2 linked regions of the Homo sapiens genome follow. The protein of the gene in region 1 interacts with the protein of each later gene in a biochemical or structural test. Each region holds a gene or a part of one and is shown in the gene's direction. Other genes may lie near its edges. The genes, in order: ADAR and TRIM47.

Region 1 (7,266 bases):
TGCTAGCATTTCGTTAAGCCTTCCTCATACTTCATAATCTTCCTTTATAGTAAGGACAGGCTCAGAGCCTTTGCAGGTAACAGTATCTAGTCAGAATTTTATAACATGATTTTATCATATTCTGTTTTACAGCCACCTTCAATATGTGGCAAGTGATACTGGTTTTCCATTTACAGTAGTGAAACAAAGTTTCCTATTTCAGTGTGTTTACATTTTTATCTCTTTTTTCATACCTAGTATTACGGATATTTACATTTTTAGAGTCTGTTTGTTTATTTTAGAGATGGGGATCTTGCTGTCTCGCGCAGGCTGGAGTGCAGTGATATGGTCATAGCTCACTGCAGCCTTGACCTCCAGGGCTCAAGTGATCCTCTCACCCCAGCCTCCCAAGTAGCTGAGACTATAGGCACAGACCACCGTGCCCAGCTAAATTTTTTTTTTTTTTTTTAAGAGACAGGGGTCTCGCTATGTTGCCTGGGGGATTACTATGTTGCCCAGGCTGGTCTTGAACTCCTGGCCTCAAGTGATCTCCCACCTTAGCTCCTCAAGTTGCTGGGATTACAGGTGTGAGCCACAATGGCTGGCTCTAAGAAGTCAATTTAGAGAAAAATATTAATTAATAGTCCAAGTAATACCTGGATGTGGCACAAATCATGTGGTGATTCATGAATGACCAAAATCTAGGAAATGCTGCCTTAGAAACAGCTTCTGTTTGACGGGTCCATATGTTTGCAAGACTGGCCACATCTTCAGCAAAACTAACCCTTCCTTGGAACAATGTCAGGGTCTGGCACTTGTCTTCATTCTCTGTTTCTCATCCCAAAGGTTCGTTTACCAAGCAAAAGTTGGGGGTCGCTGGTTCCCAGCCGTCTGCGCACACAGCAAGAAGCAAGGCAAGCAGGAAGCAGCAGATGCGGCTCTCCGTGTCTTGATTGGGGAGAACGAGAAGGCAGAACGCATGGGTTTCACAGAGGTAACCCCAGTGACAGGGGCCAGTCTCAGAAGAACTATGCTCCTCCTCTCAAGGTCCCCAGAAGCACAGCCAAAGACAGTTAAGACGTCTACTTTTGGTGCCTTTTTTGGGGCGGGGGGGTCCTCCTAACTCCTAAGTGGAGGTGGCTCTTGCTGTCATGCGAGTTATTCCTAGGCTTTACTCTTAGCCTCGAGAGAGCAGTAACTGGGACACTAGATGTAAGAAGGAAAAGATGACTCACACGACAAGTAGAGCTTGATCTCCCTGCCCACGGTGAATATGGTGGACACAGCCTCAGCTTTGTGGTGCTGACACAGCCTCTTTTCCCCACAGCTCCCTCTCACTGGCAGCACCTTCCATGACCAGATAGCCATGCTGAGCCACCGGTGCTTCAACACTCTGACTAACAGCTTCCAGCCCTCCTTGCTCGGCCGCAAGATTCTGGCCGCCATCATTATGAAAAAAGACTCTGAGGACATGGGTGTCGTCGTCAGCTTGGGAACAGGTGAGTGAGGCTCTGAGACATGCCGCCTCCCATGGCGCCTGAAAGCGGGTGCCTCTCATCCTCCCCTGGAGTCCATGCATGTAAGTCCAAGGCAGGGAGAAGAGACTTCATTTTAGCTACAGTCAATTCAGAGTGAGGAATGAGTTCTTAGTTCCTAGAGGAGAGAATATGGGAGTCTAGGATCTGAGAAACTGAGGCTGTTTCTGCCTTGAAGCTTTCAGAACAAATAGCCTTCATCCTGTTTTCCATCGGTTTCCTTCCATTATTCTATTTCTGTTTTAAACACCTTCCTAGGGAATCGCTGTGTGAAAGGAGATTCTCTCAGCCTAAAAGGAGAAACTGTCAATGACTGCCATGCAGAAATAATCTCCCGGAGAGGCTTCATCAGGTGAGCGAGGTCAGAGCTGTGGCCCGGCTGCCCGGCTGTGGAGAGCTCCAGTTCCCTGCCCCACATGGCTCTGACACGGCCTCTGAATCCCCCTCAGACAGACGGGTCATGATGTGGCAGTGGCAGCCTTTGCTTTTCACCCGTCCATTTGAACCTGTCTGATGGAATCCATCCCCTCTGTGAGCTGAGCTGCCTCCCACTGCTCGGCCTGTTTTTAAATGCTGTCCTTTTTTCTGCTAACTCTGCTGCTTCATGTTCTTTTCTAAAAACACAAAATGACCTTTTAGTCCTCAGGGCCTTGAGGATGAGGCAGCTTTCCATTTCCGTTTGAGGACCTACACAACCTTGATGCCCCTGCCAGCTTTCTCCTCTAGCTCACCTTTTCTTTAATTTATGAAGGGAGAGACTTAGAAAGGAGCAACAGCTTCCTGTAGTCCTTGAATCAGTTTGCTCTGCTCTAGAATCCCTGTAGCCGCCATAGCGAGGAGCCCTCAGCAGAAATGAAGGAGACCCAAAAGGCTAACTATGCTTTATGAAATGCTGAGGTCTCCCCTGGAGAATTTCCACCTGATAAACTGTGAAACGTCTGCAACATTGAGACTTTTCCTTACTTTCTCATTTGGAGGTCAGATTATAGAAACAACTGCTTTTCCCAGAATTGAACCTGCCTTCCTAACCAGACTTTCTTTTTGTAGGTTTCTCTACAGTGAGTTAATGAAATACAACTCCCAGACTGCGAAGGATAGTATATTTGAACCTGCTAAGGGAGGAGAAAAGCTCCAAATAAAAAAGACTGTGTCATTCCATCTGTATATCAGGTCTGTACAGTTCCTGTTGCTGCCAGGGTGGGCCCTGCCAGGCTGTTAGAATTGGGTATCCAAATGCTCTCCTGGCCTGTAAATCGAACCTGATACAATAAGCCACACTCCACTGTGGGTTTGAGGTCCATATTCAGGTGTAGATGACTCACATGTACTGCTGTCCACCTCCAGTCTCCCATGGTAGGCCTTAGAAAACATCCCTTGCTTCTGTCACATCTGACTGTTTTGGAGCCCCACGAAATTGCAGATTTCCCACAGGTGAGTTTTAACAGCCACCCCTGTTTTTCAGCACTGCTCCGTGTGGAGATGGCGCCCTCTTTGACAAGTCCTGCAGCGACCGTGCTATGGAAAGCACAGAATCCCGCCACTACCCTGTCTTCGAGAATCCCAAACAAGGAAAGCTCCGCACCAAGGTGGAGAACGGTGAGTGATACATGCCCCCGCCTCCTTTCCTCAAAAGGCTCTGCAAGGTCCAGGGACCCCAAGTCTCTACAAGGCTGCTAGGATTTTACCATTAGTCACTGGGCACAGAGGTGCTGTTTACAGGAAAGGGAAGACCTGGGTCAGGGAGCTGTGTGGTAAGATCAGGGTTCTATTTTGAATGTGTTAGTTTGGGAGATCTGGGAGATCCCCAAGTCAAATAGGAGGTGGGGGTTCCCATGTGGAGCTCAGAGGAGGGAGCTTGGCTGGAAATAGAAATATGGGAGTCATCCCCCTATAGGGTCTTCATGGCCATGAGAATGCATAGGATTACCTCAAGAAAGCGGGGAGGAAATGAAGAGTGCGGCACAACCAAGCCCTGAGGAGTTGACAGATGAGGATGCCAAATGCTGGGGTCCCCTCCTGTCTAGCTGGCAGTTGACTCTGCCTTGTCCACTGGCTCCTTCTCTCCTATCCTCTCCTGTCTCCTTACTGTCTCTTCGCATCCACTCCATTGCGTTCAGGCCACGTCAGCAGTCATCATGGTGGTCCTGAAACCTTGCTAAATACCCTAAAGTATAGACACAGTTACCATGGAGCCGGTGCTCCACTCCTAGGTATATGCTGCAGAGAGATGGAGATCTGTGTCCACACGGAAACTAATATGTGAATGTTCATGGCAGCATTACTCACAAGAGCCAAAAAAGTGGAAACAACCCAGACGTCCATCAGCTGATGGATTCATAAATAAAACATCAAATATATCCATAAATTGAATATTATTTTGGCCATAAAAAGAAGTGAAGTGCTGATACATGCTTACAATATGGATGCACTTGAAAACTTGATGCCAAATGAAAAAAGCCAGTCACAAAAGATCACATATTGTATGATTCCATTTATATGAAATGTCCAGAATAGACAAATCCATAGAGACAGAAAGTAGATGAGTGGTTGCCAGGGCCAGGAGTGGGAGAGTTGGAGAGATGAGGAGTGACTGCGCCAATGGGTAGAAGGTTTCTTTTTGGAGCGATGAAATGTTCTAAAATTGACTGTGGTGACAGTTGCAGAACTCTGTGAATATACTAAAAATGACTGAATTGTATGCTTTAAATGGGTGAACTGTATGGCATATGAACTATATCTCAGTAAAGCATTTTTTTTTGTTTTTTTTTAAACCCGATAGTGGTTTCCCACTGCACTGCATATACAAGCAAAACCTGCTGTGATCACCCGGCCTCCTCTCATGCCACTTTCCCCATCCCTCGCATATGCTCTGTCCACACTGGCTCTCTGTCAGGCGCCTGAACAGCCAATCCGCTGGCTGCCTTGGGGCCTTTGCTTTTGTCCTGTGTGCCTGAAACACTTACTCCAGCTGTCCTCCTCCATGTCTGGGCTCCCCTGCTGCTGCTGTCCCAGGAGGTGTCCCCTGTGGTCCTCCGTCATAGCTGCCTCAGAGCCTTCAGAGCACTGTCAGCATCTGGAATTCTTCCGTATGTACTGGCTACTGGTTTAGTGTCTATTCTCTTCCCTTTCAATCTCCTCACCACCATAGATGTTTTAAGAGCACAAAGATCTTACTTGGTTTTGCTCACCGTTCTTTCCCAGCACCAAGCATAGTGCCTGGCGCATAGCAGGGGCTGTGAAATATGTGAAGAATGAATGAATGTAGCCTGTGGCCCAAGCTTAAGGAGGATAGAAACCACGCCAGGGAGTGGTTTGGTCCATTGGCGCCTGTGGGTCTGACCCAAGTCTCTCACACAGGAGAAGGCACAATCCCTGTGGAATCCAGTGACATTGTGCCTACGTGGGATGGCATTCGGCTCGGGGAGAGACTCCGTACCATGTCCTGTAGTGACAAAATCCTACGCTGGAACGTGCTGGGCCTGCAAGGGGCACTGTTGACCCACTTCCTGCAGCCCATTTATCTCAAATCTGTCACATTGGGTAAGGGGCCTGCCTTGGGATCTGGAACTGGTCTGTCCTTCTTGTGCCCAGATCCCAAACTGCATGCTTTATTGCCAGGTGTTTTGTCTCCCTTATCAAAGTGAGCATGATTCACTCCTCAGTAATTGATTGAGTGTCCAGTCTGCTGTGGTAGGAAGATCCTGGTAGCCCCAGTCAGAAGGTGCTTCCTAACAAGGCAGCTGTTTCTCTTTCTTGACAACTATATCTTGTACCTCCAAAATCCCCACATGCTTCTGCCTCTTAACAGCATTTGGTGCAAACACAGGTATATATGTTTCTCTTTTTTGTACTCAGGTTACCTTTTCAGCCAAGGGCATCTGACCCGTGCTATTTGCTGTCGTGTGACAAGAGATGGGAGTGCATTTGAGGATGGACTACGACATCCCTTTATTGTCAACCACCCCAAGGTGCTATAACCCCCTTCTATTTTCCCTGACATTTTCCTCCTTTTCAAGCAGTCATGTAAACAGAGGAAAAATGTACACTGTGGGCAAGGGGAACATTGCCCACAGTGGTAGCCCACAAGGGAACATTGCCCACAGTGGCCCACCACCAACATTGGTTGGTCTCCCAAGAACTTAAACTTTCTTCCTTTTGGATGCCAAGGGCTTTTCTTCTCTTAGTCTGGAATTAATCTGAATCGAGGTGGAGTTAGTATGTCTAGAGGGTGCTCAGTCTTAGCCAAACAGAACCCTAAATACAGGGGAAAGATCATGACCCCACACTTCCTCTCTCCTATGAGTCTTGAGTCCCTGCTTCAGAATCTTATTCCTGAAAGGTTTCCATCTTTCTCCCGTTGCTTCTGGGATTCCTAGGTTGGCAGAGTCAGCATATATGATTCCAAAAGGCAATCCGGGAAGACTAAGGAGACAAGCGTCAACTGGTGTCTGGCTGATGGCTATGACCTGGAGATCCTGGACGGTACCAGAGGCACTGTGGATGGGTAAGGAGACAGGAGAGCGCAGTGAGGACCAAGCCTCTGCCCTGACTTGCAAGGGTGCATCATACCTCTGCAGTCTCAGGGCTTGAGAGCCGCCTCCCCTCCCACGGTGTCTCCACTGTGAGCTCCTTATCTTACAGGTCCCAGGTGAATAATGAGTGCTTTTGTTTCTCTAGGCCACGGAATGAATTGTCCCGGGTCTCCAAAAAGAACATTTTTCTTCTATTTAAGAAGCTCTGCTCCTTCCGTTACCGCAGGGATCTACTGAGACTCTCCTATGGTGAGGCCAAGAAAGCTGCCCGTGACTACGAGACGGCCAAGAACTACTTCAAAAAAGGCCTGAAGGATATGGGCTATGGGAACTGGATTAGCAAACCCCAGGAGGAAAAGAACTTTTATCTCTGCCCAGTATAGTATGCTCCAGTGACAGATGGATTAGGGTGTGTCATACTAGGGTGTGAGAGAGGTAGGTCGTAGCATTCCTCATCACATGGTCAGGGGATTTTTTTTTCTCCTTTTTTTTTCTTTTTAAGCCATAATTGGTGATACTGAAAACTTTGGGTTCCCATTTATCCTGCTTTCTTTGGGATTGCTAGGCAAGGTCTGGCCAGGCCCCCCTTTTTTCCCCCAAGTGAAGAGGCAGAAACCTAAGAAGTTATCTTTTCTTTCTACCCAAAGCATACATAGTCACTGAGCACCTGCGGTCCATTTCCTCTTAAAAGTTTTGTTTTGATTTGTTTCCATTTCCTTTCCCTTTGTGTTTGCTACACTGACCTCTTGCGGTCTTGATTAGGTTTCAGTCAACTCTGGATCATGTCAGGGACTGATAATTTCATTTGTGGATTACGCAGACCCCTCTACTTCCCCTCTTTCCCTTCTGAGATTCTTTCCTTGTGATCTGAATGTCTCCTTTTCCCCCTCAGAGGGCAAAGAGGTGAACATAAAGGATTTGGTGAAACATTTGTAAGGGTAGGAGTTGAAAACTGCAGTTCCCAGTGCCACGGAAGTGTGATTGGAGCCTGCAGATAATGCCCAGCCATCCTCCCATCCTGCACTTTAGCCAGCTGCAGGGCGGGCAAGGCAAGGAAAGCTGCTTCCCTGGAAGTGTATCACTTTCTCCGGCAGCTGGGAAGTCTAGAACCAGCCAGACTGGGTTAAGGGAGCTGCTCAAGCAATAGCAGAGGTTTCACCCGGCAGGATGACACAGACCACTTCCCAGGGAGCACGGGCATGCCTTGGAATATTGCCAAG
Region 2 (7,483 bases), on another chromosome or scaffold:
CAGGATTATAGGCGTGAACCACCACACCCAGCCACTTGTTTTTGTTTGATTTTTTTCCTTTTTTTCTCAAGCACTACTACTACAGCCAGACAGTCATATGTGAGATTTATAATTATTCAAGCTGCAACCTCTTGAGCTTAAATTCTGCTTCCTCTGCAGGACAAGTTATGTGACCTCTGGCAAGACATGGTACCTATCGGAATTCCAGTTGCCATCCTTTAGGATAGGGTCCTTGGACAGACAGAATGAGGGCAGGTGTGAACATGCTGAGCTCACATGGTGCCAGTTACCCTTGCCCTTGACTCTTAGACAATTCATTTTGAAGTGAACTAATACACTAGGCAAACAACTTCAAAACTCTGGAAATGGAAATGAAATAGCAAGATGCCAGGCTGGGCGCGGTGGCTCACGTCTGTAATCCCAGCACTTTGGGAGGCCGAGGCAGGCAGATCACCTGAGGTCAGGGGTTTGAGACCAGCCTGGCCAACATGGTGAAACCCCATCGCCACTAAAAAATACAAAATTTAGCCGAGCGTGGTGATGCATGCCTGTAATCCCAGCTACTGGGGAGGCTGAAGCAGGAGAATCGCTTGAACCCAGAAGGTGGAGGTTGCAGTGAGATGAGATTGCGCCACTGAACTCCAGCCTGGGCGACAGAGCGAGACTCCATTTGAAAAAAAAAGAAAAGAAGTAGCAAGATGCCACCACACTGACAAACCGCATCTCTGTGCTTTCCTCCTGGGGAGCAGATCTTTTCAAGCAGGGAGGACAGCAGGCTGTGGGTGGGGAGCAGAGGGTTGGCTGGGACCCAACCGGAAAGGCACCCCCTCCTTCCAGAACCAGGCAGGTTTGTGGCCTCACCAAACCCAGGCAGCCTGGGCACCAAAGCCACGGAGCAGGGTGGCACTGATGCCTGGGCCTCCCAACCGCTCCTGGGGCTTGGCAAACAAGTGATAGTCCTGATCAAGTGCTCTAGTGCTCTTGGTGGAAACCAATGTATGGAACTCATTACCCACCCTCCTGCCAAATCAGACACACCCAGGCCGGCTCCCTCTGCTACTCCCTCTGCCCGGAAGGTCTTTTCCCACCCCAGTCTCTGCCCGCCTGAGTCCTGGCAGTCTGTGAAAGCCCAGCTCAAATGCCACTTCCACAGTTCCCCAGCCTTTCCCATGGAGCCCCCAGGAGCAGATTGCACCGCTCTTTTGGCACTTGGAGTTGCAACAGTCTGAATGTGTGTGTACCCTCAGAATTGATGTGTTGAGATCCTGACCCCTAAGGTGATGGTCCTAGGAGGTGGGGTCTTCAGGTGGGCGGAGCCTCATTCATGGCATGAGTGCCCTTGTCCAAGGGGCCCCAAAGGCTCTCTGGCTGTCTCTTGGCCATGTGAGGACACAGTGGGAAGGCAGCCATCTACAACCCAGGAAGCAGCTCTCACTGGAACCCTGACTGTGCTGTCACCGTGATCGCAGACTTCCAGCCTCCAGAACTGTGAGGAGTGTCTGTTGTGTATAAGCCACCCAGTCTCTGGTGTTCTGGGATAGCAGCCCAGACACACTAAGACAGGGGTTCCTGAGTGCCTGGAGAGCCAGCTCCCTCCCCAAGAGGCTGGGTCCCTCCTTCTTTCTTTCTTCTTTTCTTTTCTTTTTTTTTTTTTTTTTTTTTTGAGATGGAGTCTCGCTGTGTCACCGAGGCTGGAGAGTACAGTGGCACAACCTCTGCCTCCTTGGTTCAAGCGATTCTCCTGCCTCAGACTCCCGAGTAGCTGGGAATACAAGTGTGTGCACCACCACGCCCGGCTAATTTTTTTGTATTTTTAGTAGAGATGGGGTTTCGCCATGTTAACCAGGCTGGTCTGGAACTCGTGACCTCAAGTGATCCGCCCGCCTCAGCCTCCCAAAGTCCTGGGATTCCAGGCGTGAGCCACCACACCCGGCACATTTGTGCTCTTTTGCTTGTGTTTTCTCCTCTTTAGCTCTGAACTCATGAAGTGCCTTCTGAACATTTCTAGTCTGGTCTCAGGGGACCTGAGGGTATTTTCCCACCCCCCAAGCCTAGAGAGCTGGGGAAACAGAGGCAGGAATGCAGACCCGGTGGGAGAGGTGGACAAGGGTTTGGGTGTGGGACAAGCAGCAGTGTGTGCTGAGGTTTAGGGAAGGGCCAGGGTCCTGGAACACAGAGAGGGCCAGGAACACCGGGGGACATGCATGACCTCTAGCACATTTGGGCCTGGGCCTCTCTCCAACATTTCCTTACTTATGCACTGTTATAGGTTGAATCCTGTTCCCTGAAAAAGACGTATTCGGATCCTAACCCCCAGGACCTGTGGCTGTGACCTTATTTGGAAATAGAGTATTTTCAGATGTGACTGAGTTAAGATGAGGGCATACTGGAGTAGAGCGTGCCCTAATCCAACAACTGGTGTCCTGATAAGAGGAAATGGGCACCGGGCACAGTGGCTCACGCCTGTAATCCTAGCACTTTGGGAGGCTGAGGCAGGCAGATTACTCGAGCCCAGCAGTTTGAGTGGGCAACAGAGCAAGACTCCCTAAAAAAAAAAAAAAAAAGGACATTTGAACACAGACACAGAGAAAAGGCAAATGACAACAGAGACTGATATTAGAGCGCATCTTACAGCTACAAGCCAAGGAACGCCAAGAATTGCCAGCCAGTACCAGAAGCTGGGACAGACGCCCAGGACAGAGTCTCCCTCAGATCCTGCAGAAGGAAGCCACGCTGCAGCACCTTACTGAAACACAGCATTTCTTTCTATTCCAAATGGAGAGAATACACCAGAGTGGTATGAGCAGTTACCTGTGACTTTGTCACTAACCAAAATTACAGATATCTCTGGGTGCGGTGGCTCATGTCTGTAATCCCAGCACTTTGGGAGGCCGAGGCGGGTGGATCACCTGAAGTCAGCAGTTCGAGACCAGCTTGGCCAACATGGTGAAACCCCGTCTCTACTAAAAATACAAAAATTAGCCAAATGTGGTGGCGGGCGCCTGTAATCCCAGCTACTCAAGAGTCCGAGGAGGGAGAATCGCTTGAACCCAGGAGACAGAGGTTGCAGTGAGCTGAGATTGCGCCACTGCACTCCAGCCTGGGCGACAAGAGCGAAACTCCATCTAAAAAAATAAAAATAAAAAAACATTATTTGGAATTTTCAATGCGAAATATGTCTGTTCTCCCCAGCTTGTTAATTTATTATTTATTTATATCGGCATGGACTCATAGATGTTTATTTTACACTTTGGGTTATAATCAGTGCTACTTTACTTATTTTGTTGTCATTCTGGTGTAGTGTTTTAACTTAACATTATTGAGATATAACTCATACAATAAAACGCACCACTTTAAGTGCATAATTAGATGAGCTTTAAATACTTCCAGTTGGGGAACCCCCAACCCCACCACAGGTGTCCCCAGTGTCCAGGGGCCAGAACTACATTCCTCAGACAAGGGACTTAGGGAATGACGTCAACTTCCCATTTCAGGTCTAGAAAAGTCCAAGTTCCCTACTTGGGGTAAAGAGTCGCTAAAGGAGCTGGGCGCTGTGGCTCACGCCTGTAATCCCAGCACTTTGGGAGGCCGAGGCAGGTGGATCACCTGAGGTCACGAGTTCAAGACCAGCCTGGACAAGGTGAAACTCCGTCTCTACAAAAAAATACAAAAATTTGCCTGGTGTGGTGGCAAGCGCCTATAATTCCAGCTACTTGGGAGGCTAAGGCAGGAGAATCACTTGAATCCGGGAGGCGGAGGTTGCAGTGAGCCGAGATAGCGCCCCTGCACTCCAGCCTGGGCGACAAGAGAGGAACTCTGTCTCAAAAAAAAAAAAAAAAAGAGTCGCTAAGGGGCAAAAACATATGTACATCAGCAGTTATTTTTCTCTGCAGTCAGCAGCTCAGGAACTTTGCTAAGGGTGCCAGGGAGGGGTCGAGCGCAAAGGTGCAGGCATGACACAGCTAGACGCGCCCAGCCCCTGCGGAGCGCTGGCCTGGCCCAGAAGGACCAGAGGGATGGAGGCTGAGTCCTTCCCATTCCTTCCACTGTACCTCTCGCGTTCTCCGCCCGCGCTCACTCAGTTTCACACCCTTTCAGCAGCGCCCTTCCTTAGGACCACGCGGACTCCCCTGGGGGTCGCGCGGGCTCGGAGGCCTCCCTGCGTTGTCTGGGCGGGGACTGGGAGTCCGCGGGCCCGCAGGCGGGCGGTGCTGCGGGGCGGGCCGAGCTGGGGGCGGGCGGGGGCCGGAGCCCTGGCCTAGGTCCCAGGGGGAGGTGCCGCGGCGCGAACGGCCCGGGTCCCTCCCAGGCCGGAGCACAATCGGCGGCGCCCTGGGCGGCCGCGGAGTCATGGACGGCAGTGGACCCTTCAGCTGCCCCATCTGCCTAGAGCCACTCCGGGAGCCGGTGACGCTGCCCTGCGGCCACAACTTCTGTCTCGCCTGCCTGGGCGCGCTCTGGCCGCATCGTGGCGCGAGTGGAGCCGGCGGACCCGGAGGCGCGGCCCGCTGCCCGCTGTGCCAGGAGCCCTTCCCCGACGGCCTTCAGCTCCGCAAGAACCACACGCTGTCCGAGCTGCTGCAGCTCCGCCAGGGCTCGGGCCCCGGGTCCGGCCCCGGCCCGGCCCCTGCCCTGGCCCCGGAGCCCTCGGCACCCAGCGCGCTGCCCAGTGTCCCGGAGCCGTCGGCCCCCTGCGCTCCCGAGCCGTGGCCCGCGGGCGAAGAGCCAGTGCGCTGCGACGCGTGCCCCGAGGGCGCGGCCCTGCCCGCCGCGCTGTCCTGCCTCTCCTGCCTCGCCTCCTTTTGCCCCGCGCACCTGGGCCCGCACGAGCGCAGCCCCGCCCTCCGCGGACACCGCCTGGTGCCGCCGCTGCGCCGGCTAGAGGAGAGCCTGTGCCCGCGCCACCTACGGCCGCTCGAGCGCTACTGCCGCGCGGAGCGCGTGTGTCTGTGCGAGGCCTGCGCCGCACAGGAGCACCGCGGCCACGAGCTGGTGCCGCTGGAGCAGGAGCGCGCGCTTCAGGAGGTGGGCTCCGGGGGCACACTCGGGTGAGCCGGGGCTGGTGACCGACCGCGCGCGAGCGGGCCGAGGACCTTGGACCCCCCAGTCTTCCCGGGTTGGGTCTTAATCTCCTCCTCTAACCTGAGGATCTTTGCGGTCCCTTCCAGCCTTGACAAGGTCATCTGCTGGCGGTGATGGAGATGGGAAGGGAGGAAGGAGGGACGTGAGAACAGGACAAGGACGCGAAGAGCGGGCAGGGGACCTGAAGCCGGGCCGGGGTCTATGGGGGTGTAGGCGGGAGGGAGCCGGGTTAGGCCCGCGGGGTTCCGGTAGCGTGGCTGCTGCTCCCGCCCGGAGGGTCACGCCGGTCTCAGCTCAGATTTGCCCTGGGCTGAGGCAGCAGCTTTCGATGGGTGTGGCAGGCGGCAGGAGGGCGGCAGAGGGCGACCGGGCACACAGATTCTCTGTCCAGCTGTTCCGGGGGCCAGTGGTGGGAGCATGTGAGCCGCGGCCTCTACCTCCCGCCCCCAGTTTCCTTTGGCCTCCAGCCCGGTCTTGGCGCCTCTGGCCAAGGGATTTTCCGTTTCTCCTGCCTGGAGCAGTGACTCATAAGACCTAGGGGATTTGCCCGGAATCCCCTTTTTTCCAGGCCTGGACTGTGGATGCAGGCTCTTTGGGAACAGTGATCCTCAGGACAGCTTAATGCCTCCTTGTGCAGTCACCCCTCCGCCGCCCACCTCCCAACCTAACTGGCTTACTCTCTGCCTCTTCCCCGCCGGAGGAAGTTCTCAAATTCATCTGAGCAACACTGAGACCAGCGGACGGCCCTGTACTAGGCCTCCTGTCAGAGACCCGAGGCAGACACCCAGTCAGCCTGCACGCCCCCCAGGCGTTCAGGAAAGGCACCAGCCTGGGCTGCAGGCACCTCTGGCATATTATGGGACATCGTGGCCACTCCAGTCCCACCTGATGCACAGATACCACTCCCCAGTCACCCCCTTCTCTCCCCTGGCAAGGCCTGGGACCCGAGTGTAGGGCTGTGGCCTCTGCCAGACCTCACACTCATGGAGGGTGTTGTCCACAGGCTGAGCAGTCCAAAGTCCTGAGCGCCGTGGAGGACCGCATGGACGAGCTGGGTGCTGGCATTGCACAGTCCAGGCGCACAGTGGCCCTCATCAAGGTCAAACACCCCTCCCTCAGCATGGAACAATCCACTCCAAACAAACCATGCCCATACCTACTGAGCACAAGTGTCCCCTGACCTGGCCCAGATCCAGGACAGGCTCAGTCTGGCCCCTCTGTCCCCTCAAGAGGGCCGGTGGGAAGCCGGGGTCAGGGAAGGAGGGGGGTACAGTCCGGGACGGTTCTTTGCCCTCATTGCCCCCTCTACTGTCGTCCTGTGCAGAGTGCAGCCGTAGCAGAGCGGGAGAGGGTGAGCCGGCTGTTTGCAGATGCTGCGGCCGCCCTGCAGGGCTTCCAGACCCAGGTGCTGGGCTTCATCGAGGAGGGGGAAGCTGCCATGCTAGGCCGCTCCCAGGGTGACCTGCGGCGACAGGAGGAACAGCGCAGCCGCCTGAGCCGAGCCCGCCAGAATCTCAGCCAGGTCCCTGAAGCTGACTCAGTCAGCTTCCTGCAGGTGAAGGCCGCTCTGGGGGCCACGGAAGGAACAGAAGCTGGGACAGGTGGGGTGGAGGGAGGAGGAGGCAGTGGGTGCATGACTTCCTGGCAGAGCTGCCTCCACCCCCAGCAAGGAGGAGCCATGGCCAGCAGCACTTTAATGGGCATTTGTCTGGCACAGGAGCTGCTGGCACTAAGGCTGGCCCTGGAGGATGGGTGTGGCCCTGGGCCTGGACCCCCGAGGGAGCTCAGCTTCACCAAATCATCCCAAGCTGTCCGTGCAGTGAGAGACATGCTGGCCGTGGCCTGCGTCAACCAGTGGGAGCAGCTGAGGGGGCCGGGTGGCAACGAGGATGGGCCACAGAAGCTGGACTCGGAAGGTGGGCACCGCCCCACGCCCCCCCGATGACTCACCCTCTGCCAGCCTCTCGCACAGGCCCCCAGGCCTGGCGCCCATCCAGAAGTGGAGGAGGAAAATTGTGCCTGGCACAGGGAGGAGCCCAAATCCTGCCAGTGACTAGAGCTGCCACCCTGTGGGGATCAATCAGCCCCTTGGACCTGGGGTAGAGGGGGCTTCTCCTAGCCCACCCTCTAGCTCCAGAGGGCTGTGGCCCGGGAAGCACATGGGGCAAGAGGCAGAACACAGGCAACGGGCATGTGTGTGAGCACAGCGTGCCACATCTGGGTGGTGCTTGCTCCCTGGTGGCTCTGGACTCTGGGAGGAAGTGAAGGGGGTAGGGATTGTAGTCACAGGTTCAGAGGGGGGCAGTCTGGGGGCGTTCTCACCACTGTCTCCTCTTCTACAGCTGATGCTGAGCCCCAAGACCTCGAGAGTACGAACCTCTTGGAGAGTGAAGCTCCCAGG

The links.
Region 2: of the proteins of ADAR (region 1) and TRIM47, one has a biochemical effect on the other in vitro, tested with the Homo sapiens proteins (one study listed by BioGRID).

The regions. Positions count from the first base shown.
Region 1 is NC_000001.11:154,583,969-154,591,234, reverse strand, and holds part of ADAR (double-stranded RNA-specific adenosine deaminase), read left to right. Parts: intron 1-825; coding exon 826-1,051; intron 1,052-1,306; coding exon 1,307-1,478; intron 1,479-1,772; coding exon 1,773-1,866; intron 1,867-2,561; coding exon 2,562-2,684; intron 2,685-2,976; coding exon 2,977-3,110; intron 3,111-4,871; coding exon 4,872-5,054; intron 5,055-5,369; coding exon 5,370-5,482; intron 5,483-5,890; coding exon 5,891-6,018; intron 6,019-6,191; coding exon 6,192-6,429; 3' UTR 6,430-7,266. UniProt on the Homo sapiens protein: Catalyzes the hydrolytic deamination of adenosine to inosine in double-stranded RNA (dsRNA) referred to as A-to-I RNA editing.
Region 2 is NC_000017.11:75,875,416-75,882,898, reverse strand, and holds the start of TRIM47 (E3 ubiquitin-protein ligase TRIM47), read left to right. Parts: upstream 1-4,317; 5' UTR 4,318-4,350; coding exon 4,351-5,025; exon of another isoform or gene 5,026-5,048; intron 5,049-5,074; exon of another isoform or gene 5,075-5,178; intron 5,179-6,085; coding exon 6,086-6,181; intron 6,182-6,406; coding exon 6,407-6,637; intron 6,638-6,799; coding exon 6,800-6,998; intron 6,999-7,424; coding exon 7,425-7,483. UniProt on the Homo sapiens protein: E3 ubiquitin-protein ligase that mediates the ubiquitination and proteasomal degradation of CYLD.